4 linked regions of the Homo sapiens genome follow. The protein of the gene in region 2 interacts with the protein of the main gene of each other region in a pairwise test. Each region holds a gene or a part of one and is shown on either strand. Other genes may lie near its edges. The genes, in order: GOLM1, ASPH, SMIM11 and PTH.

What was found.
Region 1: the proteins of ASPH (region 2) and GOLM1 interact in binary tests that used the Homo sapiens proteins (3 or more experiments, as listed by UniProt).
Region 3: the proteins of ASPH (region 2) and SMIM11 interact in binary tests that used the Homo sapiens proteins (3 or more experiments, as listed by UniProt).
Region 4: the proteins of ASPH (region 2) and PTH interact in binary tests that used the Homo sapiens proteins (3 or more experiments, as listed by UniProt).

What each region holds. Positions count from the first base shown.
Region 1 is NC_000009.12:86,025,639-86,034,427, reverse strand, and holds the end of GOLM1 (Golgi membrane protein 1), read left to right. Parts: intron 1-1,032; coding exon 1,033-1,146; intron 1,147-6,534; coding exon 6,535-6,611; 3' UTR 6,612-8,282; downstream 8,283-8,789.
Region 2 is NC_000008.11:61,704,353-61,713,141, reverse strand, and holds part of ASPH (aspartyl/asparaginyl beta-hydroxylase), read left to right. Parts: intron 1-8,789.
Region 3 is NC_000021.9:34,384,260-34,390,193, forward strand, and holds the end of SMIM11 (small integral membrane protein 11), read left to right. Parts: intron 1-1,218; coding exon 1,219-1,383; 3' UTR 1,384-1,385; intron 1,386-4,369; 3' UTR 4,370-4,892; downstream 4,893-5,934.
Region 4 is NC_000011.10:13,492,977-13,502,310, reverse strand, and holds the start of PTH (parathyroid hormone isoform 1 preproprotein), read left to right. Parts: upstream 1-6,313; 5' UTR 6,314-6,400; intron 6,401-9,334. UniProt on the Homo sapiens protein: Parathyroid hormone elevates calcium level by dissolving the salts in bone and preventing their renal excretion. Acts by binding to its receptor, PTH1R, activating G protein-coupled receptor signaling.

The sequences.
Region 1 (8,789 bases), on a different chromosome or scaffold from region 2:
ACAGTGCCTGCAGGATGCACCTGCTTCTAGATGCAGGTGTGGTGACCTCATTTGAAGAAACGCGGTGGACACATAGGCCTGTGCAGTTTCCACCCCAGGCAGTGAGCCAGAGAAAGAGACTAGAGCTGCTTTTCCAGGTGTGCACTTTTAAAAAAGATTTTGTTTGGCCGGGCGCAGTGGCTCATGCCTGTAATCCCAGCACTTTGAGAGGCCGAGGTGGGCGGATCATGAGGTCAGGAGTTCAAGACCATCCTGGCCAATATGGTGAAACCCCATCTCTTCTAAAAATACAAAAATTAGCTGGGCATGGCAGCACGTGCCTGTAATCCCAGCCACTCGGGAGGCTGAGGCAGGAGAATCGCTTGAACCCCGGAGGCGGAGGTTGCAGTGAGCCGAGATTACGCCACCGCACTCCAGCCTGGGCGACAGAGTGAGACTCCATCTCAAAAAAAAAAAAAAAAAGATTTTGTTTACCAGCCTGCATACACATATAAAATATGTAAGTTAAACCCTTTGAGTAGGTCTCTTGAAAGCCTTTTGTCCTCATCTTCTCTGGCTGCTGCCCACTCCAGGGAAGAATAGAGTAATGGGTGCTCTCATGCTCTAAGTATGAGGGACACCTTCTCACGTGTCTCACAGTGGCAGCTCCATTTCCTCTCTCCATTCTAAGGAGATGCTGTCATTAGCTGTAGATATCCGTTCCTTCCTAAAACAGTGGCACCTTTCTTTTATCTTGAGTTGATTATCTCTTTAAAAAATTGAGATTTGGGTTGTTAGTTTCTCCATGTTCTGCCTAGAATGCACCCTTGTATTTAGGGCCATGCTGTCTGTAGATTCCGAGTCCAAGTGGAGTACACATAATGCATGTGCTTGTCCTGGAAGCCAGCCCTTGCGTCCCTACCATTTCCAGAGAGGCAGCAGACAGATCTGATTGTGAGCAAGTATGGCTAACCCCCAGCACTTGTGCTCTGATAGTCCTGTGACATCAAGACAGAAATGATGTAGCTTATGTTTTATGTGCTAATTTTACAGGGAGAAACCAGCAGAAACTGAGAGGAGAAGATGACTACAACATGGATGAAAATGAAGCAGAATCTGAGACAGACAAGCAAGCAGCCCTGGCAGGGAATGACAGAAACATAGATGGTAAGAATGGGGCCTACATCGGTGACGAGGTCACCTTTCATTTCTCTTTCCTGGTCCTTCACCGTGATTATCCAATGAATCCCCAAAATTATATTGTAATTAATGGGTCATTTCAAGGAGATCGTCTGTTCTTTAGGAGCTTTTAAACCAGGGGCAGTGGAGGGAAGTGAGGGTTGAGAAGCCCAAGGTGATGAAAACCATTCGGAAAGTCTGCATCGTTTCTAGAAACATATTCAGTGTGGCTCAACTCTTTAAGTAGGATGATTTTTCAGTGACATTTAGGGATTTCCCAACAAAATGGCTAGGTCACTACTTGATCAGTCTGCCTCCCAGATGAGAAGCCCCAGTATGTGCATAGAGCTTCCAAGCAGCTATGAAAGCTGCCCTTTGTATTATTATTTTGAATTTTTGAAGAGTCCAGGCCAGTATCTTGTAGAATGTATCAAACTCTGGCCTTGTCTGTTTGCTTGTGGTGGATTCAGGCTGATGAATTCTTGCTTCTCCCCAGGAGGCATAACAGCAGGTGGTCCTACAGGTGATTGGTTGATCCCTTAGCTAACATGGTGCCCACAAGGTCTCAGAAGGCCATTTTCCTTTTGATATTAATACGTCATCTAGAAGAGGATGCTTTGAACTTGTGTAGCTTTACCATCCATTGATGAACATTGCCCAAGTGGTGACATTTTACATGCTGCCATCACAGCACATTTATTACCTGACATTTTTTAAGGAACTCCTCTCCCTCCTCCAACACACTTGTTTGTTTTGGTATCACTATGGACTCATAGTATTCTTTCTTAAAATTCATTTTTCTGGGCCAAGTGTGGTGGCTCACACCTGTAATCCCAGCGCTTTGGGAGACCAAGGCAGGCAGATCAGCGGGTCAAGAGATTGAGACCATCCTGGCTAACACGGTGAAACCCCGTCTCTACTAAAAAGAGAAAAAATTAGCCAGGCGTGGTGGTGGGCGCCTGTAGTCCCAGCTACTCGGGAGGCTGAGGCAAGAGAATCGCTTGAACCCGGGAGGCAGAGGTTGCAGTGAGCTGAGATCGCACCGCTGCACTCCAGCCTGGGCAACAAGAGTGAAAATCCATCTCAACAACAACAACAAAAGAATCCAAGCCATGTGACTGTAGTTTCCCACAGCCTGAATACTGCTGATTATAGAGTCATGGGGGAGTTGAGTGAGTTCGCCTGGTCTCTGTTTTCTGTAGAGTGGCAGCTATACCCAGAGACTTGATGAGACTCAGGTCCTGGCTCAAGCCCTCGGTAAGGTGAGTGGTGGTGTGTTCTTTGGTTCTTTCATCGGGAGGCACGTCATGTCTGGCGTCTTTTTTTTTTTTTTTTTTTTTTTTTGAGATGGAGTCTCGCTCTGTCACCCTTGCTGAAGTGCAGTGGCGCGATCTTGGCTGACTGCAACCTGGCGTCTTTCTTTTTGTGATGCCAGTTGATGGTCAATGCCTGTATCAATTCATTTTTATGTTATTTGTTAATTGGAATGTTCTTAGAAATAGACACTTCAGCTGGGCGTGGTGGCTAACACCTGTAACCCAGCACTTTGGGAGGCCGAGGATGGTGGATCACCTGAGGTCAGGAGTTTGAGACCAGCCTAACTAACATGGTGAAACCCCGTCTCTACTAAATACAAGAAAATTAGCCAGGCGTGGTGGCACATGCCTGTAATCCCAGCTACTTGGGAGGCTGAGACAGGAGAATCGCGTGAACTCGGGAGGCAGAGGTTGCAGTGAGCCGAGATTGTGACATTGCACTCCAGCCTGGGCAAGAAGAGTGAAACTCCGTCTCGGGGAAAAAAAAAAAAAAAAAAAAAAAAACCTCAGTGGTATTGTTTGTATAAGGTAGATAGGATAAATGCTTGATTTCTTTCCTTTTTAACAGTTTTCATGACTATGAATTACTTCCCCATCTTCTCTGAGGGTAACTGCTTTTAAAATATCATCATAAACTTCAGAATTCAGCAGAAATCCTCAGGGCAGCAGGAGTCGTTGTAACAACTACTTCACTTCAGTTTCGGCCTTGCTGATCCTGCCGATGCCCTTTTTTTTTTTCTTCCTCAGATGGAGTCTCACTCTGTTGCCCAGGCTGGAGTGCAGTAGTGCGATCTCGGCTCACTGCAACCTCTGCCTCCCGGGTTCAAGCGATTCTCCTGCTTCAGCCTCCCGAGCAGCTGAGATTAGAGGCGCACGCCACCACGTCCAGCTAATATTTGTATTTTTATTAGAGACGGGGTTTCACCATATTGGCCAGGATGGTCTCCATCTCCTGACCTCATGATCCGCCTGCCTTGGCCTCCCAAAGTGCTGGGTGGCGTAAGCCACCACGTCTGGCTAACAATACCTTCTTTTATTACCATCTGGGCAATGCATTATTCATTTAATGTTTTAATACTTACATTTTTTTTACCTTTTCATTTTGAAATAATCTAGACTTCTTTAAAAAGCAAAAAATTTCTGTATACCCTTCACCCAGGTTCCCCAAATGTTAACATCTTATATAACCACAGTAAAATTACCAAAATAAGGAAATTAATGTTTATACAATGCTATTATCTAATCTGTAGACTTTGTTGAAATTTAGTGAGTGTCCAATTCATGTCTTTTTTTCTGGGTTCAGGATTATACACTGCATTTATTGTCAGACCTCTTTAGTGTTCTTTATCGTGGAGCAGTTTATCATTTATGTTGTTGGTCTTTTTTGAAGGGTAGTGGCTCAGTTATTTGGTTGAAAGTCCCTCAATCTGTGCTTGTCTGATTTTTCAACAATGTCCCCCTAAAAATTATCTTTTATATTTCTCCAGGATGTCAGTTGTTTCAATTGGCAGAGTTGTTTGGAATTTTTAGAATCCAAGTCCTAATTTGAATTTTCAGCTGTCTTCATTTAGGCAATTTTTTAAAAAGGCAAATGGCAAAATACACTAGCAGCCAGACTTTGAAGCAAATACAAACTCTCTGTTGTCATTGACTCCACTCATTTATGTTCTTGAGCATGTTTCACGGTCTGGTCACTGTCTTACTTCTATTCTTTTTTTTTTTTTTTTTTTTTTTTGAGACAGAGTCTCACTCTTCTTGCCCAGGCTGGAGTGCAATGGCACAATCCTGGCTCACAGCAGTCTCCGCCTCCTGGGTTTAAGTGATTCTCCTGCCTCAGCCTCCTGAGTAGCTGGGAGCTGGGATTACAGGCTCATGCCACCATGCCCAGCTAATTTTGTATTTTCAGTACAGACAGAGTTTCACCATGTCCACTAGGCTGGTCTCGAAATCCTGACCTCAGGTGATCTGCCTGCCTCAGCCTCCCAAAGTGTTGGGATTACAGGTGTGAGCCACCACCCCGGCTCTAACCACCTTTTAAATTGGGCCTAGTTTCCTACTAAATGATGGGCTTTGCGGTGAAGCCTTTTTGGATCTCTCATTCCCTACACTCAGGTGTCCTAAGGACTTGACCTTGTGCAAGGTTTTAAACAAAGTAAGTAGGTAAGGTAAAGAAAATGAGTGCCTTGTCAGCTCTTTGAAGAAGCTGAAGAAATGTCAACATCAGCTTCAACATTATTTTAAGATTGTGTCATTGAAACAGTGAGACCTTACTTGCTCCAGGGAAATTAGAAGAAAAAAGCATTAGCTCCAACTTTATTAAGAGCCTTTAACAGATACCGTTAATTTAATATGGCAGGTATTTAATGGTCATTAAACTACCATTTAATGTGCCATAGTTATAAATCAAGACCGTGGTTTTAGGTTTTATTTGTGATGTGCCTTTTTATGTTTTCTGTGTGTTAAAAGGATAGAGTAAGATCAGATGGTAGAAGCTACATACAGACATCAGCTCTGTAAAGGGAGAGCTTTGGAGTCACAAGAGCTGTCTGAAGCTGCAGACAGCTCTCAGGAGGCAGCGTGTGCCATTAGAAGTGCAGTAGCAAGGGAGTCACGCCGCACAGGAGCGTGGTGATTATATTTAAAATGTCATGAGTGCACTTGATACTGTCCATTTTCTATGGCATATGGGGCATTATGTCACTGTTACAAACAAGTATGGAATCTTTAGGTGCTTCAGCTTTGTTTCATGGCACATTGTTGGTCATCCATTTGGACACTTTGAAAGGGGAGGAGTTCCAGCTGGGCGTGGTTGCTCACGCTTGTAATCCCAGCACTTTGGGAGGCCAAGGCGGGCGGATCACGAGGTCAGGAGATCGAGATCATCCTGGCTAACAGGGTGAAAACCCGCCTCTACTAAAACTACAACAACAAAAAGAAATCAGCCGGGCGTGGTGGCGGGCGCCTGTAGTCCCAGCTACTCGGGAAGCTTAGGCGGGAGAATGGCGTGAACCCCGGAGGTGGAGCTTGCAGTGAGCTGAGATCGCACGACTGCACTCCAGCCTGGGTGATAGAGCCAGACTCCGTCTCAAAAAAAAAAAAAAAAAAAAAAAAGTTCCCTTATCCCCTTCACAGGGCATGCAATGGGGGTATGGCTTTCTTCTTCAGTGCCCCACAGCTCAAACCCCTAGGGGAAGCATGCGGACGGACAGGTTGTGGGGAGGATGGGTTTCAACCCCGCGGCAGCATCTAGGGTTGAGTGGTTACAGCTCCTGGAGCCCCACTGGGTGTGTGTTGCAGTGCGTTCTTTCAGCTTAGCTGTCCACAGGCAGCTTGTGTTAATCAGTTCAATTAGACCCTCTGCCTTATCGCAAGGACAGAGGGCTTTCTGTATCCCAGGTTCTTGCCCTAGTGTACTGAAAAAATCAGATCATGTGGGCTTGGAGAATGAATGCAAGATTTATTGAGTGGTGGAAGTAGCTCTCAGCAGATGGCTGGGGAGCCAGAAGGGGGATAGCATGGGAAGGTAGTCTTCCTCTGGAGTCTGGCTGCTCAGCAGCCGGGATCTCCTACTGTCCTTGGCCGAATTTCCCTTGGCGTCCGAATCGTTCCACCATCAATGGCCTGCCAGCGTCTTTCGATGTGTTCTTCTGCCAGTGTGTTCCTCTTGACGTCCAGCCGCTTGTGTGTGTGCCCGCTGGGGTCTCAGGGTTTTTATAGGCACAGAATGGGTGGCATGGCAGGCCAGAGTGGTCTTGGAAAATGCAACATTTGGGCAAGAAGACAGGAGTCCTTGTTCTCATTAGGTCCATGGGCACAAGCCTGAGGGTGGAGCCCTTGCCAGTGACCCTGCCCTTCTCTACCCAGCACTTCCCTGTCCCCCTCCCATATCACCGTTGCCATCTTGTCCTTGATGAGGAATACAACTCCCAATTACAGTGTTGCTGTGGGAGATGCAGTCCTCTTTATGACAGTTTCTAGAAGTTGATAAGAAAATGGGACCTGCCTAGGGCTAGTATCTCATTTAATACTCTATAGAATATTATGTGTTTTTCCTTTTTAGTTTTTAATGTTGAAGATCAGAAAAGAGACACCATAAATTTACTTGATCAGCGTGAAAAGCGGAATCATACACTCTGAATTGAACTGGAATCACATATTTCACAACAGGGCCGAAGAGATGACTATAAAATGTTCATGAGGGACTGAATACTGAAAACTGTGAAATGTACTAAATAAAATGTACATCTGAAGATGATTATTGTGAAATTTTAGTATGCACTTTGTGTAGGAAAAAATGGAATGGTCTTTTAAACAGCTTTTGGGGGGTACTTTGGAAGTGTCTAATAAGGTGTCACAATTTTTGGTAGTAGGTATTTCGTGAGAAGTTCAACACCAAAACTGGAACATAGTTCTCCTTCAAGTGTTGGCGACAGCGGGGCTTCCTGATTCTGGAATATAACTTTGTGTAAATTAACAGCCACCTATAGAAGAGTCCATCTGCTGTGAAGGAGAGACAGAGAACTCTGGGTTCCGTCGTCCTGTCCACGTGCTGTACCAAGTGCTGGTGCCAGCCTGTTACCTGTTCTCACTGAAAAGTCTGGCTAATGCTCTTGTGTAGTCACTTCTGATTCTGACAATCAATCAATCAATGGCCTAGAGCACTGACTGTTAACACAAACGTCACTAGCAAAGTAGCAACAGCTTTAAGTCTAAATACAAAGCTGTTCTGTGTGAGAATTTTTTAAAAGGCTACTTGTATAATAACCCTTGTCATTTTTAATGTACAAAACGCTATTAAGTGGCTTAGAATTTGAACATTTGTGGTCTTTATTTACTTTGCTTCGTGTGTGGGCAAAGCAACATCTTCCCTAAATATATATTACCAAGAAAAGCAAGAAGCAGATTAGGTTTTTGACAAAACAAACAGGCCAAAAGGGGGCTGACCTGGAGCAGAGCATGGTGAGAGGCAAGGCATGAGAGGGCAAGTTTGTTGTGGACAGATCTGTGCCTACTTTATTACTGGAGTAAAAGAAAACAAAGTTCATTGATGTCGAAGGATATATACAGTGTTAGAAATTAGGACTGTTTAGAAAAACAGGAATACAATGGTTGTTTTTATCATAGTGTACACATTTAGCTTGTGGTAAATGACTCACAAAACTGATTTTAAAATCAAGTTAATGTGAATTTTGAAAATTACTACTTAATCCTAATTCACAATAACAATGGCATTAAGGTTTGACTTGAGTTGGTTCTTAGTATTATTTATGGTAAATAGGCTCTTACCACTTGCAAATAACTGGCCACATCATTAATGACTGACTTCCCAGTAAGGCTCTCTAAGGGGTAAGTAGGAGGATCCACAGGATTTGAGATGCTAAGGCCCCAGAGATCGTTTGATCCAACCCTCTTATTTTCAGAGGGGAAAATGGGGCCTAGAAGTTACAGAGCATCTAGCTGGTGCGCTGGCACCCCTGGCCTCACACAGACTCCCGAGTAGCTGGGACTACAGGCACACAGTCACTGAAGCAGGCCCTGTTTGCAATTCACGTTGCCACCTCCAACTTAAACATTCTTCATATGTGATGTCCTTAGTCACTAAGGTTAAACTTTCCCACCCAGAAAAGGCAACTTAGATAAAATCTTAGAGTACTTTCATACTCTTCTAAGTCCTCTTCCAGCCTCACTTTGAGTCCTCCTTGGGGTTGATAGGAATTTTCTCTTGCTTTCTCAATAAAGTCTCTATTCATCTCATGTTTAATTTGTACGCATAGAATTGCTGAGAAATAAAATGTTCTGTTCAACTTATAAAACTTGTCACAGCTCTGTTTTTTTGCTTTTCCCCTTCATCCTCTATTAGATCCTTAAAGAATCCACCCTCAAACTGTGGACTAAGGATGGCAGTTTGCCTTAAACCTTCTGTGGAATGAGATGGGCTGTCAGGACGTCTTCAACCCACAGTACCCCGAAAGCTTTGTGCTCACCACGTGTGCACTCTGCATGCTTTCTCCAGGCTGCCCTAGGGATCACGACAGATTCAGCCAACAATGGAGAGGGCTGTGGGCTGTTCCAACAAAATAGAACAGTCACCTCTGGTGACACGCATCTGTAGTCCTAGCCTCCCAAGTAGCTGGGACTACAGATGCATGTCACCATGCCCGGCTAATTTTTTGTATTTTTAGTAGAAATGGGGTTTCACTTTGTTAGCCAGGATGGTCTCAATCTCCTGATTTCGTGATCAGTGTAAAGACTCAGAGAGCTGTTGCATAATAACTTCATGTGAGTCTCCAAAATTTGATACTAAAGGCTTGGTGG
Region 2 (8,789 bases):
CTAAAAGTAAAGATGTAGACACAGTTTGAAGTTCAATGCAAGCATATTAATTCACCTTTGACATAAGTGAAAGTTTGTGTTCCTTTTTCACTTGTTCTTAAATGTCACTTACTTAAACCTGCAGAGGGATAGATTAATTGCCTCAGCCGACTGAGGCTACTCTTTTTTAACATCCCTAAATGAGAATGGGTTCTTCTCATTGTGCCTCTAAGGGCACTAAGCAGAGAAAGCTGATGAACAACTTTAATGTTAGTTGTTTTCAAAAGGTTTCTGTAGCTATTTGCCAGAGAAGCATGTCTTCGTTCCATTTCATTTTTGTGTTTATGAGGAGAGGGCTGATTGCATCTGAGGGAAGTCACTTTATATGGCCTCTTATTGGTGAGAACTAATACTGGGAAATGTGTCTCACGTTTCTAGACCTACCCCATAACTATTTGAAGCATTTTAACAGGCAAGAGATAGGTTTAGAAAATGCAGTAACTTAAATTAACTTCTCCTGACTTTCATAGTCAGGCATTTTAGAACAAACTCTGCCCATATTTGAGGATCTACAGCCTTTTAAGCATTTTACACGTTGATTCTCTAATAGTCATGAAACAGACATAGTATGTAAAAGAATATGTAAAAGGGAGGAATGCCCGTGATACGAAAACAAAAGTTGATATTGGAACCCTGCATGTGACGTAATGAGTATTCTTTATCCGCATATCCGCAACCTTTTCTTTTTTTTCTCCAGTAGATACTGAGTTCTTACTGTGTGCCAGATAGAAGGCACTGGGTATGGAAACCATTTCCTTCCATCACCCTAAACAGTTAAAGTACAGTGTCGTGTATAGTAGGCTGTACTCGAAAGATAAAGCCGGCTTTTCTTTTAATGCTGTTTACCTGGTCATTAAAGTACGGACGTTGTGCGAACCATTTCCTTCTACTGGGAAAATCAAAGACTTTTTAGCAGTGTCATACTGTGAGACCCATTTAGTTTCCTGCTCAAATCATACAGATGAGGAAATTAATGCCCAGAGAAGTTGCCGAGTTCATTGAAGGTTGTTTAGTTCATGGAAACTCAACTAATTACTGGAAGAACCGAGACTAAGAACCCAGGTTTTGTTATTCATTTTGCCATGCTTGAATTTTAGGTTCTCTAGTATGTAATTGGAGTTGAACTAGATTATCAAGTTTTCTTCTGGCTGTCTCCATGAGTACTACATTTAATTATTGGAGAAAACTATGCTTTTGTCCTATCACCAATTACATTTCCCTTGACAAAAATTCTATTTGAAACACTATTTGAAATTTTAGTTTGAGAAGAAGTATATGTGTTCAAATAGTACGTTTTTTGATATGTCTTACATTGAGAGTCAGAAAATGACGGCATTGGTCACATTAAACATTATTATTTCTTAAGTTGTTGTGTAAACGTATGGGGAAAAAAGAACCCAGTCATTTGAAACATGCATTTTAGGGAAAAGGTGATTTCTTTTTTTTTTCCTGGCCAAACTTTATCTTGGTGGTTTTTTTGCTGAAAAGTGATGTTTGGAAGCTGGAATTTGGGGAATTTATATCACAGATTTTTAAAGCAAGTGTCTGCTTTTTATTTTCTTCAGCTTAAGCTGAAAAATGATAAAATGGTTTTCTACAGAGTTCAATTTTACTTTTTTTTCAGTTTTACTCTTTATAATATAAAAGAAACATGAATAAATTAGACTTCCTACCTTTATTTTGCATATAGAACTGGACTTGCATGGCCAGTTGGGCCCAGGGGAAGCCTTTTTCAAATTTATTGATTTGAAAATAGTTTGACAAAGAAGGATCATGATGTCCTTTTGGGCTTATTTTGTAGACACTCGTATGTGTAATGTTTTCTGTTTGTTTGTTTAGTTTTTCCCTTTTGAGTATCACCCCTTAACTCCCTGTATCTCCTAGCAGCTTTCCATCTCCCTGTTTATTTTGTCTGGGTGTCCTGCTACTACATTAACTTTTGCCACTAGGTGTCACTGTAGAATATATCCCCCTTTTAGTTTGAAGCTTGGGGTTATGTAACAGCAGGTTTTAATTATTATTTAATCCGTCTGTATATACTCAAAACTATTGATAGATAAGCACTTAAAAACTCTTAGCTACTTTTTAACTCTCTCAAGGTGTCTCAGTAGATTGAGCAGCCTTTTTGTTTAGGCTTAATTAGAATGAAATATATTCCTGTACTGCCTGTAAAACATTAACAGCTTCATTTGATGAGTATTTGTCATTTAGAAACACACTTCTGAGTTTAGTTTAGCTTCCTTTTTCTTTCTACTTTGAGTGTCTCTTAGATTACTAAGTAACTGAGGGATTCAATACACTGCTGATTGCATTGTGGAGCCCTTGAATGAAGAGGCCCTAGCAAAATTTTCTTTCTTTAGCCAAAGACCATCAGAGCCAATTGCTTAATCCTCCATTACTCATTCTAAGATGAAAACATAGGAGGACCATAATTCTTCCACTGCAAGAACCGTCAGCTATTTTGTGTTCAGTTCAACAGCATTTTGTCCATCCTGACCAAATCATATGAAACCAAGCACTAAATAATGTTCTGAGGGAGTTTATGAACACATTTTCCAGAGACCAGTTAACCTCTGGTGGTCTGTGGAAGTGAAAGTTCTATATTTTGGACTATATTTTAGTCTTGCTTTAAAATAATCTGTCTCATAGAGATTATTAGAAAATGAATGTATGACATTTTCATTTTCAGCCAGTTATCAACAGAGGAACTTGGATAAAGGCTCATAGGGTCTATCCATCTTGTTGTTAGTTAATATCAGATACTTAGCCCCTGAGCTCTCTGGTTCCAATAGAAAAACCCTTTTCTCCAGAAAGCTAGTGCAGTTTGGGAGAAGGAATATGATGACCTGGATCATATCTGTGTAAGAATCAGAACCAAGAATCGCTAAAAATCTCTGTTCCCAGCCTCCTTAAATGTAAAGAATTATTATCTACTTTCTTTTCAGAGTTTTGATATCACTAATGCTGATTTCATATGGCTTTGTGTTTCTCAGTTGTTTCCGTTAAAGTACGTCTAATAGTAGGGGTGAGTGCAAAACTTTGGAGACTATAAAAGTGTAGATGTCATCAGGCCATTGCATGCTTTGACTTTTTTGATGATTTATTCTTATTTATTTATTTATTTTCATGTTCCATAGCATCTTTGTGTTAAGTAAAATGTATATTCTTGAGATAGAGTTTATACTATGCTTTGAGGACTGCTCGATACATTTCTCTCAGCTTCTGGAGGTGTAAGTATCCATTTGCACATCAACTTTCAAGTTGGTGATTTGCCCTTAATGGCTCAGAAATCTGTAACATTATTTTATCTTACCCAGGCTCAGATATATTTAGTCTTTTGAGGTAACTCCAGCCACTGTTTTAATATCATGAAAATATGCAGCTTAGTTTGTGGCTTGGATACTTCCATATCACCTCTAAATGGCTTGACTTCATTCTGTACCAAGGTACAAAAATGTTTTTCAAATGAACTTCTCTTTAATAAACCCTGTATGTACATATAACCTATGTACACCCCACCTAAACCTCCGGGGAAAAGCCTCAGCCATCTATCGGGAAATGTGGAGGTGCAAGGGCTGCTTGCTTCATTATCTGCTGCCAGTGTCTGCTCTGCACTGCACATGTGGGTGTGATGAGTTTCTCTGGTTCGGTCCTGCAGCTCTGGCCATTTTTATTAGAGGACTAAGGATTCAGGATGTTCTTTTCTTCCCTGTGTACCACTGTGGGAGTATAGTCTGGAGGCCAGTGCTTTAACTTTTTTTTAATTATACTTTCTTCTGGTACTGCTGGGAGCCAAGATGGTATTTTCTTGTTAGTCATTATTTTTAAAATTTTAGTATTTTATTCCCCTGATGTGAGGGATGCTTCAGGCTTTTGTCCTGCATTTGATCTTTGTTTTTCAGGGATGTGTCTTGGTTACCTTTGGCTGATGTGGTTATCTTTTAACGGCAAATCACTGAATGTAATTCAGTTCCTATCAAATTGGCCACAGCTGAGGACAAATTTGGTTTAGATAACCTATTAGACTCAAAGGAAATGTTGAGCTCCCTTGGTGAATAACTCTTTTTAAAAAGAAAATCATCTTTTGAAGGATCTGGGCTATTCGGCCCCCTGTGAGATTCAGGTCACTTGCCTAGTCATGTGACTGTCATCATCTGCCGTAGATACTATGTGTGCTCCAGAGCGGAGAGCATTGGTGAATTGACTTGGTTGAGGGGTGGGGGGCTGGGGGGTGGGAGTGGTTGCTGTCCAGTTATAGTCAGGTTTCCAAGGGCAGCCACTATCTCTGTACTTGGAGAAATGCCAGCACTTCTCTCCTACATGTGTGCCCACACGTTGAACCCAGTGACTCATCCTGTACTTAAGACCCCAAGGATCAGTCTTAAATTTAAAGTAGGAGAATATCCTTTGATAATTTTATTTCACAACCAGCATTGTTGTAACTGCCTTTTCTCATATTTTACATAGGTTTGACAGCCATTTCTACCATTCCATAGTGCAGAGTCACTATTATTTTGTTGTTCTATCCTGTCTGTAACTTCTTTTTCTTATTTATTATTCTTCTAATATACAGTTTTTGTCCCTATCTTTCACAGGCTGCTTTCAATTTCAATTTTCTTGGTATACTGGAAAGACTCTTTTGGTCTTAGTTTCACTTGTAAATTTTATTTAGGACACTTAATTTTTTGACTTACATAAACCTCAAAATCTGTGTTGTAAATATTTGTTGAAAGAATATCTAGCATTTAACTACTTTTCCATTCTTTGAATCAAGTCAATTTGTATAAGATGCTTGTCACTGAGTTTTTGTAAGTTGTTTCATGGATTTGCTTTTTGGCAGAGAGCTAGTTCTCTAACCTTTATAATAAAAATATTTCTGTGTATTGCTCTTTAAAATTGTATGTATTTGAAATAGTACATATTTAAGCCTATAAATAATTGTAGAGAGTAATGCAGTGGATGCCCATGTACTGACCATATAGGCGAAGAAATGAAACATTATCAGATTCCTAGATTTTCCTCTCCTGTGGTATTCCTTCCTAACCATTGTTAAACATTTTATGGTAGTCATTATCATAAATACAGGTATATATGCACAAAATAATATATAACATGTAGCACATACACATTATGTATCCACACATGTAAACTGTATCTATTATTAAATCAATGTATTTGAAAACTGCCCAGGAAGTATATCTATATCCCTATGTGTAGAAATATACCTATACACACACACACATATATGTATATATACTGTATAGCACGTATTAAAAGTTTTGTGAACAGGCTTCTACTTGGCATACTATTTTGACAGCATTTGTTTGAAATTCCTCCAAACTCCAGTTCTTTATTTTCACATATGTAGTTCTACACCATATGAATATGCCTTGCTTTTCATTTAGCCATCCTATCGCAGGCCACTTTTTTTCTTTCAAATAATGCTGCCCTGTACATGTATGTGCCTATCTCTCCCCATGCATACATGTCTGAGTGTTTTTCTAGGGCATAATCTGGAATTGGAATTGTGGGTCATAGAAAGTACACACATTAGACTTTACTGGATATTGCCATTTTTTAACCCCCAAGTGGTTGTATCAACTTACAGTTCTGCCCCTAATGAATAAGAGCTTGTTCTGTGCCATCATCACATTGTCAACATTTGGTGAAGTTTAATATTTGCCAGTTGAGTGGCTGTGAAGTAGTACTTGAGGGTTTAAACTTGCATTTTTCTAATTACTAGTGAAGTTACTGGTAAGAGTAGCCTTGTGTTTCCTCCTTTGAATTGCCTGTTCGTATATCTTGCCTATTCTTCTGTTTTTGTTTTGTATTTGTAGTATTGATAGGTAGATTTTTTTTTTTTAATATCCTGAACCTTTTGATTATTTTTGATAAAGGACTTCTCCTAGTCTGTGTTTACTCACATTTTCATTTTTTATGGTATACGTTGTTGAACAGAATTTTAAGATTTTAATATATTAATAGAATTTTTCCATTTTGTACTTTGTGGTTCACACCTTTATACTTTTTGTAAGACACATAACACAGATGTTATGAATTATTCTTGTATTTTCCTCTAAAAGATCTGAAACGTTGCTTTTTTACATTTAGATCTCTGAACCACCTGGTGTAGCATTTTATTGTATATTTTGTTATTAGGGATCTAATTCAGTATTGTTTTTTAAAAAGGGCCAATGAGAATGTCCTGTACTGTTAGTTGATTTGTCATCTTTTTACCGTAGTCTGCAGCATCACCTCTTGTGTATGAATACGTCGGGCTCTATTTTGTTCCAGGCATGTAGAAGCAACACCAAACTGAATTGCTCACTATAGCTTTGTAATGAGTCCACATATCTGATAGGGCATGTCCTTCTACCCTGCCTTTTTCACTATTGTGTTTGCTGCTTTGGGACCTTTCCTCATCCATTTCTCTAGATTTTAGAATCTGCTTATCAAATATGTTCATGAAAAATATTTGAGAATTTTTACTGGCATTGTATTGAATCTATAGAACAATTTGGGACAAATACAGATGTTTATAATACTGAATCTTCTTATACATGCACCTGGCCGGCTGGCCTGCTTTCTCTTCTTTCTTCTTTCTTTTTTCTTCTTTCTTCTTTCTTCTTCTTCTTCCTCTTCCTCCTTCTTCTTCTTCTTCTTCTTCTTCTTCTTTTTTTTTTTTTTTTTTTTTTTTTGAGTCATGACCTCGCTCTTTCACCCAGGCTGCAGTGCTGTGGCAGCCTTGACTTCCCAGGCTCCGGTGATCCTCCGACCTCAGCCTCCCTGGTAGCTGGGACTACAGGCATGCACCACCATGCCTGGCTAATTTTCTTATTTCTTGTACAGATGGGGTTTTGCCGTGTTGGCCTGTCTGCTCTCAAACTCCTGGGCTCAAGTGGTCTGCTCATCTCGACTTCCCAAAGTGCTGGGATTACAGGTGTGAGCCCTGCACCTGGCCTATAATTTCTTATGTATTTAAGTCTGACAATTTTTATAATCTTATTTGAAAGTCATATACATCTTTTATTAGATTAAGTCTGGGTACTTTGTATTTTAAAAAACATTTTCAATAGTATTTTTAAATTAACATTTTTTAATGAAACTTAAAAAATATGTATCCAAATTGAAAGAGTTCTGTAATGACTCCACCATGTAGATGCTACAGCGGTTAACATTTTGATAGATTTGCTTTGTCATGTCTATTAGTCAATCTTATTCTTTCATGCCTTTCGAAGTAAGTTGCAGGTATTAGTATATTTCACTTTCATAAACATTTACATGTGCCTGTAGCTAACTAGAGCTTAGCATTTGTTTTTTTTTCCCTCTGAGGTAAAATTTTCACGTAGTGAATTGCACAAATTTTAGTGTCTGATCTGAGGAGTTTTTATATCCATTTCTACCTTTGTAAAACAATAACCTATTAGGATAGAGAATATTTTCATCACCCTGTAAAGTTCTCTCAAGCCCCTTTCTTGCGTCCACCTCTGCCACCAGAGGCAGCCATTGTACTACATTTTTTGATCATAGATTAGTGTTTTCTATTCTAGAACTTCTTTTGCAAGTACTTTTTTTTGTAAAGTCTCCTTTCACTCAGCATAATATTTTTTAGTTCGTTTATGTTGTGTACACGGTCACTTGTTCCTTTTTATTGTCAAATAGTATTCCAGTGTCTGACTATAGCACAATTTTTTTTAAGCTTTTATTTTAGGTTCAGGGGTACATATACAGGTTTGTTATATGGGTAAATTGCATGTCACAGGGGTTTGGTGTACAGATAATTTTGTCACACAGGTAATAAGCTTAATACCTGCTGAGTAGCTTTTTTGATCTGCACCTTCCTCCCACCCTCCACCCTCAAGTAGGCCCCAGTGTCTGTTGTTCCCTTCTTTGTGTCCGTAGGTAGTCAATGTTTTGCTCCCACTTATAAATATTAATAAGAACATGGTTCTCTGTTCCTGTGTCAGTTTGCTTAGGATAGTGGCCTCCAGCTCCATTCGTGTTGTATAGCACAGTTTTTTAACCCCATCTTTTATTGGTGGACACTTGGGCTAGTTTTGGGTTATTATGAATAAAATTCTATGAATATTATAGAAGCCTTTTTTGACATATGTTTTTATTTCTCTTGAGCAAGAGAGGGATTACTGGGCTATAGGGTAGGTGTATGTTTAGTTTTATTAAGAAACTGTTCAACTCTTTTGCAGAGTAGTTGTACAATATATTTTATACTCCCACTAACCATGTGTGGAATTGGTTGTTCTACATATGTACCAACATTTGGTGGTGTCAGTCTTTTTAATTTTAGCCATTCTGGTGGGTATGCCGTGGCTTCTTACTGTAGTTTACATTTGCAATTCCCTGATGAATAATGATGTCAAGCACTTTTTCTTGTGCTTATTGGCTACACCCATTATCTTTAGTGAAGTTTCTTTTTTGCCCATTTCTAATTTTATTGTTTTTTGTTGCTGAGCGGTAATTCTTTATGTATTCTGGATAGAAGTTCTTTTCAGATATATATAGCACATATTTCTCCCAGTCTATAACTTACCTTTTTATTTTTTTATTTTTAATGCTGATATTTATTTTTTCTTTTCTGTTTTTGCTTTCTGTGTTCTAAGAAACTGCACATTCTCACGTCTCAAAGCTATCCTCTTTTATTTTCTTCTAGAAGTTTTATAGTTTCAGTTTTTATGTTTGTCTATGAGCATTTTCACATTAATTTTGAATTAGATTTATATTTTTCTATATGG
Region 3 (5,934 bases), on a different chromosome or scaffold from region 2:
TTCATGAATTTCAGTTTGTTGAAAATCAGGCATCAGTGGAAGGGAGACTGGCCCCGGGGTTAGAATGTCCTTCCAACTGGCTCCTCATGAGGGAGCTGTGGGACCTTCAACCTCTCAACCTCCAGGAGCTCTTCTTTCCTTGCTCATATAACCAGGGGGTTGAGTAGGTCCCCTTGAAAGTTATTTCCAGCCCCCCGGTTCTGTGAGCATATTGTACACACTAACTAGGTTCAGATCAACTTCGGTTAGACTATTAGAGGGAGGTGCACATGTATCCCCCACAGTGGAATCTCATTGGTATTTCATATAATAAGTGATTGACAGAAATAAGGATTTCATTGGGATAAAATCCTACCTGGTCCTCTAAAATAATGATTGCTCAACCAGAGCATACCTTTTCACTATTTGGGAGGGAATTTTTAATCACACAAAAAGCACATACATATCATTCAGGTCATGCTAACCATGTGTATGGAACTAATATTGCTTTGAAGTACTATTTGCAATATATAGAATTTCACACAAAAAACCTACTAGTGCAAAGAGTGAGTAATTCAAATGCATAGTGTTTCCCTAGACTTTATTTTAGTGAATGGGGTTGCAAGAGCAGTTAGTAAGTAGCCATGTTTTAATGTTTTGAGTTCTGTCGTGTTTTATTTTACCAGCAAGTGCCAGTGCTAGTGAGTCTCTAGAAACAAGAGAAAATCCCAGAGTACTAAAGCTGCAGTTTCCAGAAGCAAGGTCTGATTCACCCTTACTTTGTAGATGAAGGGGCAGGAGCTCAGAAAGAAAGGAGCTCATTGCCTGACCCAGGTCACACGGTCAGTCGGTGGTAAAGTAGAGCTCTGACCCAGGCCTCCGGGCTCCAGCTCCTTTCACTGGATCTGGCTGCTGCCTCAGAAGCAAGGGCCTGGGTGATCAGCAGGTTGCACGGTTGAGCTGTGAGAGACCAGAGTCCCCACGCCTGTGGATGACCGGTGGTCCCCTCCATGAAGCCAGCCGCAAGCAAGCAGCAAAGAGCAGAGCTGTAACTTGACTGTTGGCCCCATGGGGATAGAGACCTTTTCTGCTTGGTCTCCAGTGTAGCTCCAGCCCCCTATCCTCGTGCCTGTTGCAGAATAGGTGCTAAGTAAATATTTGTTGACTGAAGGATCATAAAAGAAACCTCCCATATCGGTGATGGAACATTTAGTTAGCATGGCTTCTTTCTTCTTGAAGGTTCTTGAGCACGTGCCCCTGCTGCTGTATATCTTGGCAGCAAAAACATTAATTCTCTGCCTGACATTTGCTGGGGTGAAAATGTATCAAAGAAAAAGGTTGGAGGCAAAACAACAAAAACTGGAGGCTGAAAGGAAGAAGCAATCAGAGAAAAAAGATAACTGAAGGTGAGTCCACAGTACCCAACCTTGCAAATGGGAGCTGGCCAGTGGGTTGGGGTGACCAATCAATGAACAAGAGAGGTCTGAGACCTCCCTGTCCGTCGGGTCTGAAGGGCTGCGTGGGGGCATGTGGCCTCACCTGTTCTCTAAGGTAGAACTGCTCCATAAAGGGCCAGGTGTGCAGATCCTGGTCCTGGGATGTGAGTGCTGCTGAGCCAAGGTGCACGGAGCATTAGTTCATCCTTCTTGAAACCTGCGGTGGCAATGGTTCTTGACAGGTATTGGGTTAAGAATTGAGGACTCAGTGACAGCTGTGGACCTTCTTCCCAGAGAAGCACACATACTGAAACCATCTGCATTTGTGTGTGGGGAGAAGTTTGCAGATGTGGGGAGTCACAGGTCATTTGAAATTCCAAGATTAAGAAACCCTGTTACCTTTAAGATAAAGTCTGACTCCATGGTATGACAAATAAATCCCTTCCCAGTCTGGTCTTAACCCAGACCTCATTTGCCACATGTGCCCACTCCCCATCCCCCTGCAGGCCATTCCTCAGCCACCATGGCCTTTGGCCTTGCTTATTAGGTTCTTCCCAAGGACCTCCTCACCAGGCCTGAGGGTACACTCATCGTTGTCACCCAGTGCCTATCACAGTGCACACTGGTGGGCTTAGAACACACTTGGGGAGTTACAATACATCAAGGCACCAGAAAGTTCCTGTTAAGCCCCTGTTACAGATTTAACACATGACAATTCACAGTTACCTTGATTCCAGTGTGTTGATGCAGTTTCTTCACTTTGCAGGTTGAGTTCTGTACTTTAAAAATCAGGGGATTCAGCCAGGTGTGGTGACTCATGCCTGTAATCCCAGTGCTTTGGGAGGCAAAGGTGGGAGGATCACTTGAGCCAATGAGTTCAAGACCAGCCTGGGCAACATAGTGAAACCCTGTCTCTACAAAAATTAAAAAAAAAAAACAAAAAAAACCAAAAAAAAAAACCAAAAAAAAACTTAGCTGCACACTTACTGGGTGTGTAGTCCCAACTACTCAGGAGACTGAGGTGGAGGATTGCTTGAGGCCCAGAAGTTCAAGGCTGCAGTGAGGCATGATCACACCACTGCACTCCAGCCTGAGTGACAGAGCGAGACCCTGTCTAAAAAAAAAAAAGGATTCAAATATGGTGGCGGTGGGGTTCTAGATCTGTGGTTCCCAAACCTAGCTAATGATCAGAATTGCCCAGGTGTTTGTTTAAATGAAGATTCCCAGCTTCAGCCCAGAGAGATTCCATAATGGCTCTGGTTAGGTTTGGGTGTTGGTTTTTGTTGTTGTTTTTAAGATAGGGGATCCTACTCTGTCATCTAGGCTAGAGCGGTGCAGTGGCACAATCTCGGCTCACTGCAGCCTCAGCCTCCTGGGCTCAAGCAGTCCTCCCAACTCAGCCTCCCGAGTAGGTAGGACTACAGGAGCACGCCACCACACCCGGCTAGGTTTTTAAAACAATTTTTAGTAGAGAAGGGGTCTTGCTGTGTTGCCCAGGCTGGTCTTGTACTCCTGGGCTCAAGCGATACTTTCGCCTCAGCCTCCTGAAGTGCTGAGGTTACAGGTGTGAGCCACTGTGCCCAGCCTCTGTTCTTTTGAAAACCCATTAGATAATCCTTAGGTTGTCTTCTCAGCAACAGGTCATTGTAGGAACCACTGGGCTAGGTGGCCTCCCAAACCCAGCCCACTCTGAGATTCCATGCTGAATTCCCTTGCAGTGCCGTCAGGCTTGTTGAGGCTAAAGACCTACTGATGAGGAATAGTAGCAACACCTACTAAGTGGTTATTCTGTGCTGGGGACTTTGCTAAGCATTCATGCACAACTGTGTTATTCAGCCCTGATGACTCTGTGAGGCATGTTCAGATTGAAAGAATGGCTCTCTCTACATGGTGAAGAACAGAGTCAGAAATTGATCCCAGGTCAAATGCATTCGATCAGCATGGCCAAGCCCAAGCTGTGCTACCTTCCTGAATACAGGCAAGTGAGCTCGTAGGGATGCTTCACTCTGTTACTCACCACTTCCGGCAGCTGCCCACTCGCTGGTCCCCAGTGAACTGTAGGCTTTTGCTAGATAGAAGAAGTTACTTTCTTTCTTTCTTTCTTTCTTTCTTTTTTTTTTTTTTTTTAAGGTGTTTGATTGACTGAAATTTAGGAGTAGGCATTACGATGGGGAGGAGAGAAATTAAAAAGGGTGAGGGAAGGCAGTTTAAATTAAAATGTTGCTGATTGAATTTATATTCCTGACAATCCCATTTTGTGTGCTAAACTGATCAAAGGAAGAAAAGATGAGATGGAAGATCATAAAGGCTTTGTTCCTCCCACAAACATCAGCAGAGACCTGCATTTAAGTCAGGCCTGGATGGCTTAGAAGCAACTCAGGGAGTTGGTCTTCCTCTCTAGGCTGGCAGCTTCTTAAAGACTAGAGACTTGCTTCAAACAAAAAGCGTTTTCAGGCCGGGCGCGGTGGCTCACGCCTGTAATCCCAGCACTTTGGGAGGCCGAGGCGGGTGGATCACTTGAGGTCAGGAGTTCAAGGCCAGCCTGGCCAACATGGCGAAACCCCATCTCTACTAAAAATACAAAACTTAGCTGGGCGTGGTGGCACGTGCCAGTAATCCCAGTTACTTGGGAGGCCGAGGCACGAGAATCACTTGAACCTGGGAAACAGAGGTTGCAGTGAGCTGAGATTGTGCCACTGCACTCCAGGCTGGGTGACAGAGTGAGACTGTTTCAAAAAATAAATAAATAAATAAAAGGGGGGTGGGGTGTTTCAGATGGAAGGGAAACTGATGCTAAAAATACATTGGTTAATAAATAGACTTGAGTGATAGACTTGAGTGGTGTCCGCTTGTTAAGTTTAAATGGCTGAGCATACGTCTTTATGCTGAGCAGTAAACATCGGGTATACTCTTATCAAACATTTCCTACTCATCCCTTTGGTATTCCCTTCTAGATTCTGCCATGTAAATGTCAGCTTGAGTGGACTCCAGCTGAGAAGAAAGAGAAGAAAGACTTAATTATTGAATAATTTGTCAGAGGATAAACTCCCAACCTAGACCTTTCACTTAAAATAGTGTGAATTTGTATATGTTTTTAAAAGAACCAGTACTGGCCGGGTATGCTGGCTTTTACCTGAAATCCCAGCACTTTGGGAGGCCGAGGCGAGTGGATCGCCTGAGATCGGGAGTTTGAGACCAGCCTGGCCAACATGGTAAAATCCTGTCTCTACTAAAAATATAAAAATTAGCCAGGTGTAGTGGCGCGCGTCTGTAATCCCAGCTACTCGGGAGGCTGAGGCAGGAGAATTGCTTGAATCCGGGAGGTGGAGGTTGCAGTGAGCCTAGGTCGTGCCACTGCCCTCCAGCCTGGGTGACAGAGCGACTGCGTCTCCAAAAAAAAAAAGGTAAAATTAAAATTAAAAAAAATAATAATAACCAGTATTTTGTTTACTAAAATAAAATGCCTTTGTAAAAAAAGGAGTCGTGGCCTTTGGAATAAGTCAAATTGTGTATCTCTTTCTCTTTCTCTTACACAGCACCCTCTACCCCGTGTTGTAAAGCGGGGGGTTTTGTAAACTTACACCTCCCCCACCATCTCAAGCTGGGGGGTCCCAGGTGAGAGGCTTCCATAGAGGACAAGGTGGTGCAGAAACATCTGCTGTGGGAGTGGGGTCCCCAGCACTGGGTGCTTCGGCCAGCTACCCCCGACCCCAGGCCCCCTCATAGGCTGCCCTCCCATACCCTCCTTTCTCGTCTTTTCCTCCTACAGGTGCTACACCCCTGTGAGAGTGTTTTGGAGTGTTTTCATTGTTAGGGTGGAGGGAGGCTGTGTGTGTCCAGGAAAGGTGACTCCTGTGTTAACCATGAGGGTCCTCGCAGGGAGGAATCGTTGGGAGCCCTAGGGTGTGTTTTGTCCTCTCCTCACCTGTTTGCTCCTTGGGATTTGCTGATGAGAAATGAAGGGTAGGGCACCCTAGGAGCCACTGGAACCAAGGGCAGGGAGGATGGGAAGATGTTTTACTCAGCACCTAACACACGCAGATCCCTGTGACAAGAGCTCATGCTCTCCCACTTCTTCGCAAGACCCCAGAGTGGATGGGGAGTGAGGTGGCAGCAGCTGGCACTGGAAGCAGTGCGGAGTGTTTGGTCTGGTTGCTGATGGCTGCATGGGAAACTTGCAGGAGTGTGTGTTAGTAAACGTCTCCCCGTCCTGGCCCAGTTTGTGTCGAACATGCGTTTTCCATGTGGGGAGTCAGGGGAGTTCCATCTTAAATTGCACTGTGCTTGCTGGATGCTCTTCAGGACAATTTAGGAAGCAGGAAAGAATTTACAAAGTTCTGAGGACAGACAGACCCTGCTCCTACAAGCTGCAGTGCTCACCATAGTCAAAGTGGACTTTCACGTAAGCCCAGACCTCATTCTCTCTGAAGGAGGCCGCTCCAGCCTTTGCCAGGAGCCCTGGTGACTTTATTCTGCCTAATCCTGCTGCGGCCTGGGGTCCTGTTAGAACGTGAATGGA
Region 4 (9,334 bases), on a different chromosome or scaffold from region 2:
ACTTCACTGGAAAGGGCCACAGAAAATTTGAGACTTTACTTCTCAATTAAATTGCTATGGCTTTCTTATGATTCAAAAAGTGATGACTCAATTGTGTCTACTTCTTTCCCTCTCTTTTTTTAAGAAACAGAGAACTTTGCACAGGCAACTAAAACCTTTTCAATTAAATAAAGATCTAAAGGTTTCCATAAGTCCATAAGTGACTCTCTAGGTTTGCTCTGTGACAAGACAGAGACATTCCTTACTGTATTTAGAAAGACAGTCTCATCCCAGGCATCCAGTAACTCGCTATTTCCTTCAGTCCCTGCCTCTAGAGATGCCTCTTTCTGATCGTGGAAACATTGCATATCATCTTAACACTCCCCCAATCCATATAAACATGTAGAAAGCTGAAAACTCATGCAGGGTTAGATGTTCACTGACAGAACACACAAAAAACAACAAGTAATATTGTATTTGTGAATGTGGCTACACATTTTAACTTCGAGGAGCTACTCAGATATAATGGATCCCAGAGTTTATAACATGAATATATAGAGATCAGTGGCCTTCTAAATGCTGCCTATTAGAGAACCACAATCACAGCGTCCATCAATAAAAATTCTAGAGAAAGAAAAATAAGGAACAGAATACTATCATAAATACTTGGAATATTAATCATTTATTATGTGCTAAGTCACTTTAAGCATTTTGTTCATTGCCTCTAACTATAAACAAGTTTAGGGCTGGTGAAAGGAAGCAGAGAGGAAAGTTTTTTCTGACAGATCAAAAGGAGCTTGGTTGGCTGAGTACAGTGGCTCACGCCTGTAATCTCAGCACTTTGGGAGGCCGAGGCGAGTGGATCACTTGACCCCAGGAGGCAGAGACCAGCCTGGGCAATGTGGTGAAACTCCGTCTCTTCCAAAAATACAAAAATTAGCTTGGCATGGTGGCATGCTCCTGTGGACCCAGCTACTCAGGCTGCTGAGGTAGGAGGATCCCTTGAGCCTTGGAGGCAGAGGTTGCAGTGAGCTGAGATCACACCACTGCACTCCAGCCTGGGTGACAGATTGAGACCTTGTCTCAAAAAAATTAATAATAATAATAATAAGGAGCTCAGTAACTCATTGCACAGAGGGGCTTGGAGCAAAAGAATGACTCAACCATTAAGATAGACACTATTCAGAATAAGTTCTAGAGATCTGCTATACAATATAGTGTTTATACCTAATAATACTGCATTGTGAACTTCAAAATTTAAGAAGGTAGGTCTCATGTTGTGTTCTTCTAAACGACAAGGAAACTTTGAGAAGTGCTGGCTATGTCTATTACCTTAATTGTGGTGATGGTATCACAGGGATAACATGTATGTCCAAACTCATCACATTGTACACATTAAATATGAACAGTTCTTTGTATATCAATTGAACCTCAGTAAATTTGTTTTTTTTTTTTAAAAAAAGGGAGTAGAAATTATCCAATCTGTTCACAAAACATGGAATTAGAGAGATGTAGCTGGATTTTTCAGCCCTGGAAGCTTGTTGATGTCAAATTCCCAAAGCTGTACTAATTCCTATTGAGCAAACAGAAGGAAAAAGTATCCGTCTTAACTTAAACCTTCCATAAGGGAACAGGGCACAACACATGGTATTTTGTCCTTCCCAAATGTGAGGAATACATTAGATTGTTTGACCCTAGCTTCAGTACTTTAGAATGCTAAGAAAAGCTGACGTTTTCAAAGCAAAAAGCTGTGCTCAGCTCTTCTCTGTCACGGTGTCATCAGTCTCTTGTGCCCACATATCCCCTAACCCTGTCCTCCTAAGTGATTTCCTTCTATCTAATACCTGCAGGTCCAGAACGTGATGGTTCAGATAAACTATATATCAAGTCTTGGCAGCTATATTACTGCTTTGTGGGAAGGTCAAGTAGTCCTTTGAAAAATTTGAAGGACACAACAATATTACTCATGCACACATTTAGAGTTTAGAGAGGACTGCAAGACAAAACTCCTTGGCATTCACACAATAATCTTCCAAAATTGTACCCAAATCTTACTTCTTTGGAGTCATCATCCATTTCCCCATTTTCCCTCTCCATCCACAAGCATATACTCAATATTCAGTCTTTTTTTTTTTTTTTTTTTGAGACAGGGTCTCACTCTGTCGCCCAGGCTGGAGTACAGTGGCATGATCAGAGTTCACTGCAGCCTCCATCTTCCAGGTTTGGGTGATCCTCCCATCTCAGCCTCCTGAGTATCTGAGACTACAGGTGTGCACCACCACATCCTGCTGATTTTTTTTTTAACTTTTAGGAGAGATGAGGTCTTGCTATGTTGCCCAGGCTGGTCTCAAACTCCTAAACTCAAGCAATCCCCTTGCCTTGGCCTCCCAAAGTGCTGAGATTACAAGTGTGAGCCACTGCGTCTATTCAGTCTTCATTGCCTGCATGCCTGTGCGCATGCAGTTCCCTCTGTCCTTTCTTACCTTCTCTGATGGAAAACACAATCACCTGTCAGGACAGTTCAGCTTTTCAGTAAAACAGCTTCCAACAACTTTAGGGAAATTGTCACTTCCTCTTCTGTGCTTTTATAAGTCTTTGTTCATACCCCTATTATAATACCTATCACATTATATTATAATTATGTGTTAAATTTCAAGGCATTGATTATGTCTCAATTATCCAGTGATTAATACAGCCCCTGGCAGATAGTATTCAACGCATTTTTTTGAGTGAACAAATGAGTGACCACTGTCTGAACTATTTGCTTTATTTTTCTGTAAAACTAGTTTAATAATGTGGTTGCCTTGGTATGACAATTTATTCTATAAATAAGTGTAAGAGAAAGAAGAACAAGAAAGTGATAATTGCATCACTCCTAGAAGGCTGTCAATTACATTAAACTTACCCAAAGCGGGAAAAATCTCCAAATCAGAATATTAAGCATGGCTTTATAATAACAATGCAAAAAATGTGTTTATAAAACCATTTGTGTATGCAGAAGATTGAAACTGGACCTGTTCCTTACACTATATACAAAAATTAACTCAAGATGGATTAAAGATCCGAAACTATAAAAACCCTGGAAGACAACATTGGCAATACTGTTATAGACATAGGAATGAGCAAAGATTTCATGAAGAAGATGCCAAAAGCAATGGCAATGAAAGCAAAAATTAACAAATGAGATATAATTAAACTAAAGAGCTTCTGCACAGCAAAAGAAACTATCAACAGAGTAAAGAGACAACCTACAGAATGGGAGAAAATTTTTGCAAACTATGCATCTGACAAAGGCCTAATATCCAACATCTATAAATTAAACAAATTTACAAGAAACAAACAACCCCATTAAAAAGTGGGTAAAGGACATGAACAGACATTTTTCAAAATAAGACATACATGTGGCCAACAAGCGTATGGAAAAAAGCTCAACATCACTGATCATCAGAGAAATGCAAATCAAAACCATAACGAGCCACCATCTCACACCAGTCAGAATGGCTGTTATCAAAAAGCCAAAAAATAACAGGTATGGGTGAGGTTGTGGAGAAAAAGGAACATTTATACACTGTTAGTGGGAGTGTAAATTAGTTCAACAATTGTGGAAAACAGTGTGGCGATCCCTCAAAGACTAAAAGCAAAACTACAATTTGATCCAGCAATCCCATTACTGGGTATATACTCAAAGGAATATAAATCATTCTATAATAAAGACATATGCATGCGTATGTTCATTATAGCACTATTCACAATAGCAAAGACATGCAATCAACCTAAATGCCCAACAGTGGTAGACTGGATAAAGAATACGTGGTGCCTACATACCATGGAATACTAGGCAGCCATAAAAAAGAACAAGATGGAGCTAGAGGCCACTATCCTTAGCAAACTAACATAGGAACAGAAAACCAAATATCTCATGGTCTCACTTATAATTGGGAGCTAAAAGATGAGAACACATGGACACAAAGAAGGGAACCACACACACTGGGGCTTACTGAAGGATGGAGAGTGGAAGGAGGCGGAGGATCAGGAAAAATAACTAATGGGCACTAGGCTTAATACCTGGGTCATGATATAATTAGTACAATAAACCTCCACGACATGAGTTTACCTATATAACAGGCCTGTACATGTACCCCTGAACTTAAAAGTTAAAAAATAAAAATCCATTAGTGGCTGGGTGTGGTGGCTCATGCCTGTAATCCCAGCACTTTGGGAGCGAGAGGTGGGAGGACTGCTTGAGCCAAGGACAGCCTGGGCAATTTAGCTACACTCTGCCTCCACAAAAATTTAAAAATTAGCTGGTTGTGGTGCTGTGTGCCTATAGCCCCCACTACTCAGAAGGCTGAGGTGGAAGGACTGCTTGAGCCCCGAAAGTTGAGGCTGCCATGTCCATACCACTGCACCACTCCAGTCTGAGTGACAGAGTGAGATCCTATCTCAAAGAAAAAAGAAAAACCATCTGTATTTCCAATTCTTCTTCTCAACAGAGTATAGCAGAAAAATGACACACAAACATCACATGTAGAGTTTGCATCAGAAGAGGTCTTTAAAAAGATCAAGACAACAGATTTTTACAGTTAAAAGAGACCTCTTGGTTATCTAGTTCAACTTTCTTCTATGTATGAATCTCTATAGTATGCCTGATAAATGCTCATCTACCTTCTACTTGAATATTCTCAGTGATGGAGAAATCACTATTTGAGAAGGTACTTGATTCCTTATTTTGACAATTATAATGTCCAAGTTAAACCCAATGAACCCAGCCCTTCCTTCTTAAACCACAGAGAATACTCCTTCTTCCTTATGGTAACCCTATAAATAATTAAACACAGCTATAAAGTCATCCCGTCTTTTTTTCCTCAGACTTTTCTAGTTTCATTCAACTACTTCTCATGTTATAGTTTTCAACATTTTCACCAAACTGATTGATATCCTCAGTGTATGTTCCCATTTGTTTCTACTGCTTCTAAAATGGAGCCTGGAGCAACACTCTAAGTGAGGTTAACCCAGAGTGGAGAATCTCCTAGGACAGGACTAGTATATATCTCTCATTATAAACTCCATACGGTTACTATTCAAATTTGTACTGGCTCTTACCTAAGGTAGAGTCAAACCTTGACAATGGCTAGTAGGAAAAAGGATGACATGAAGCCAGGATGGGACCAGAGCTGAGAGAACTGATCCCACTCTGGCACCGGATCTTTGGTGGGAAGGCAAAGCTGTCTAAAGGAGTCCTAGATATATCAAAGACATTCAGGGTGTTTTGACAGGTGGACCAGGAAAATATTGCTGGAGGAATATTTGAAGTCAGACATGTGGCAGCATCATGCCTCCAATAGGTTTTGGAGCAGGCTCTCATCATCCCTTAGGGAACATGAGAATAAAGACCTAACCCCTAGGGGAAAATGTTGCAAAGAGCTTTTGCTGTGTTTTCAGATGACTTTGCAAATTAAAGTCAAGAAGACTGGAGTTCAAAGAAGGGCTGTATTTCTAGGCAGAAACTGAGGTAGTAAGAATCTGGTGTCATAAAGACCTTTGTTGAATTCCATCTTTTCTGCTTTCCAAGCCTAAGTTTCCTCATGTAAAAATGGGGATAAGCACTTAACTTTAGTACTTTAAGTACTAACTTTAAAGGACTGCTGTGAAGATCTAGTGGGATAATATATGTAGTTAGGCATGCAGTTAGTGCTTATCAAATGTTATTATTATAGATTAAGATGCACAAATAAAATATAAGTTAAATAAATTTTAAAATAATTTCACTTTTGAAGCTTTTAAAGTAATTATGTACTAAGAGCATTTTCTCAAATTATTCTTAACACTTCCTTTAAGAAAAGGGCTATATCTGTTTTTTGAAAGATGACCAGAAGTGACATGGATTGGTTGAAAATGGCTTGTAAAGTAAGCCTAACATTTATGATTTATTACCATAAAAACTGTACCAACAGTACGGTTATAACAAATACACTTATTTTTGGGTTTTATTTTCAAGTAAGATAATGACTTTATCATAAACCTTTGAAATCAGTCTTTTTACAGTATAAATTCAGATTCATTAATCCACATAGAATTTTTCTCGATGGTATAATTCTGTATTTGTTAAAAGTCTTTGCATAAGCCCCTTGTCAAGCCAAATGCTGTTTTCCTTTTAGTATCCAATTATCTGAAACTTAAGAAGAGTGTGCACCGCCCAATGGGTGTGTGTATGTGCTGCTTTGAACCTATAGTTGAGATCCAGAGAATTGGGAGTGACATCATCTGTAACAATAAAAGAGCCTCTCTTGGTAAGCAGAAGACCTATATATAAAAGTCACCATTTAAGGGGTCTGCAGTCCAATTCATCAGTTGTCTTTAGTTTACTCAGCATCAGCTACTAACATACCTGAACGAAGATCTTGTTCTAAGACATTGTATGGTAAGTAAACTTAAAAATTCACTTCTGAATCTCATGAGATTTTGATAATCAAGTTATTATTTAATGTGTACCATTTCTACAAATACCATGTTGTTTCTTCAAGGTAAAATGCTAAGAAGTTTGAGTTATGTTTAATATAAAATGCCACATACAAAATAAATTAATGCTACTCAAATCACAAAATCCTTTTTGATTAAAGTCTTCTGAGATACCTTGCCTTTTAAAACCTCATCTGAAATTACAACAAAAAATCATTAAAATTTGGCATGCTATGCTTTAATATAATAGTATCGGTGTCAAAATTTTGAAATAAAACAGGTTGATGGTGAATGAATAGTTCTGATTTAAATAATCTTTATAAATTTATTAAGTGGAGTTAATATTCTGTTTTTCCTGCAGAGTATTCTTATCTAGATTATTTATTTTATGGCTCATAAAGAGCCCAATCTGTATACTAAAGTTGGATAAGCCCAGTTTGACTAGTAAATATTTATTTCCTTTACATAAATGACAGCTGTATTCTGAAAACAGTATTTCCTATGCTATTTCTAAATGATGCAGTTTCCCTGTAAAATAGGAGTACATAACTACTCTATGTGTATGTTAAAAGGTAGTACACTGAGCATTAAGGAAAAGCACTTCTATAATAACAGCCTTTGCAAGTACTGAAATGCAGATTAAGGCAAGAATATCCTATACTGATGTGAAACGAGGAAAGAGACAAAAGTTATATTAAAAGATAATTGTTAATAAAATAAGTTGAAGAAATAAGCTACAAACAAGCATTCCATTCAGAGATAAAGCTCGAAATCCATATCACAAGTAATTAATCAGATGATTTTTAAATGCTTTGACACATTATTTTTAATGCTAGGAGAAATGTGAATTAATTTAGTGAAAATCTCTAGATTAGCACCTATTAGTTTGGTATTTATGGTTATTACAATGCCTGAAATGAAGGTTACTTAAGAAAAGGATTTGCTACGTAAATAGTGTTAACAATTTACACTATGAAGAAAATTAGGCATTTTCAAGCAAGTTATAAACATTTAGGTATAATCAACATAAAATGCAGTGCGGGGGGATTTCTCAAAAATAGGCTCTTTCATTCCTCTTGTAGCTTAAGATTTCTGCAGTGTGACAGAAGGGAGCATGAGAAGCATGGCTCACCAGCCAGCCTCTATTGTCTATGTAATTAGAAGCTTCAGAACTCACTAATACCACTGTACCTTTCACTGGCGCATTACCCCATAAAACTTGAGATGAGGTGAGATCTGAGTATAAAGATAGGTCAGAAGTATTTTAAAGGGCTTAATTTGCCAAAAAGAAAAGTAAAAAGCTAGAGACCCTTTTTGCAGAACATTTGGTGACCACACATTTGAGGGAAGATGTGGCATTAGATGAAGCAGAAGCAAACCCTGCTCTTAGGGGCTCATCTAGGTGAGTGCACAGCCTGTGACACTACAGGGAGAGGCTCAGTAAACTGAGATCCAGCATTCTGTATGACAGAGGCATTGCTTATCACAGAGGTTCTGAATTTTAAGTAGGAAGTACATAATGAAGAGGGCTTTAAAAATTGCTAAGAAAGCGAGTCACCAGGGCTGGCAGTAGTGTAACAGGGCCATCCTGAGCTGTTAGGAGAGTAGATGCAGGGAGGGCTGGTGACCTCCGTGGGTTTATCTGTTGGAGACTCTTCTCTCCAAATCCCAGGCCTGGCTTCCAGCACCATCCAGCTGTGCCCAAGAAGCCACGCTGGTCTGTTCTCCAAGTCTTTTAAATGGTGCCTAATTTTTCTAAGTGAGCTTAGCAATGAGAAGAAAAAAAAAACATGAATTATTTTTCTGGAAAATCAAGGAGACATGGGTAACAACAGGCACTAATAAATATTTATAGATGAGTGAATGAGGAAATAATTACATAAAAAAGGTCAGTGACAATTGATAAATGACAAGGAAATATTTAATTAGGTAAAAGTAAACCATTGCTCTCTATACTAGGATAGACTTTATCTACTTCGTCTTTTCCTAAGTCAGCATGTTAATTCTGGGGGAGGATCATAAGAAAGGAAATACTTTTTTAAAAAAAATTTAAAAACATGTAACAAAGCAAGGGTAAAATATATGTATATACATAAGTGGTATGACTGTAAAACTGTACTTTCCATTAGTTATTAGCTGAGTTAAGAGAATGATCACGTTGAAGTACTGTGTGGACTAGAAATGTACTCTGTCATCATGCAATGAAATGTTGCTAACATTTTAACATAGCTCATTTATGCAGAATGAATTCTGGCAGTTTACCCCAAGTCACAGTTAGGACGGTAGATGGTGAGATCGCAGATGCGTGATTATCTAGATTCAGTGTTACATTTTTGATGTTTATCACTCAGTGGATTTTTATTAATATGCTGATTAAGTTATTTACTTGGCCAGTCATTGTGCTAAATAGTTGCTCTTTTGTGTTTCATTGCCTTGATGTTTGAGTGTAATCTAGCATTTTAATACAGTGTTTATTTTGCATGATCTTTAACAAATGTTTTAAGCAATTTTAAAAAGGCAGGATGTTATTGACATTATACATTGAAGTCTTAACATTTTAATATTTATAGTGCTTATTAGTTTGCAAAATTGTATAATTAGGAATTATTTCAGAGACAATGTTTTCTTTTTCAGGTGAGTAGTTGCCGCTTAATATCATTGGAGTACATTCTTTATACTGTTTGTGAAATTAATACTAGCATATTAAGTGTACAAATAGATTTAGAAAACAATAAAAAATTGCATTCTAAAAAAATAAATAAAAATAAATAAATAAATAAATAAATAAAACTTGCACAAGAAATCTCCAAAAGATAGTTAGGAGCATAAAACTAATTTATAAGTTAAATTATGTGTATATATAATGTATACTAATGTATCCATAAAATAAAGAGGT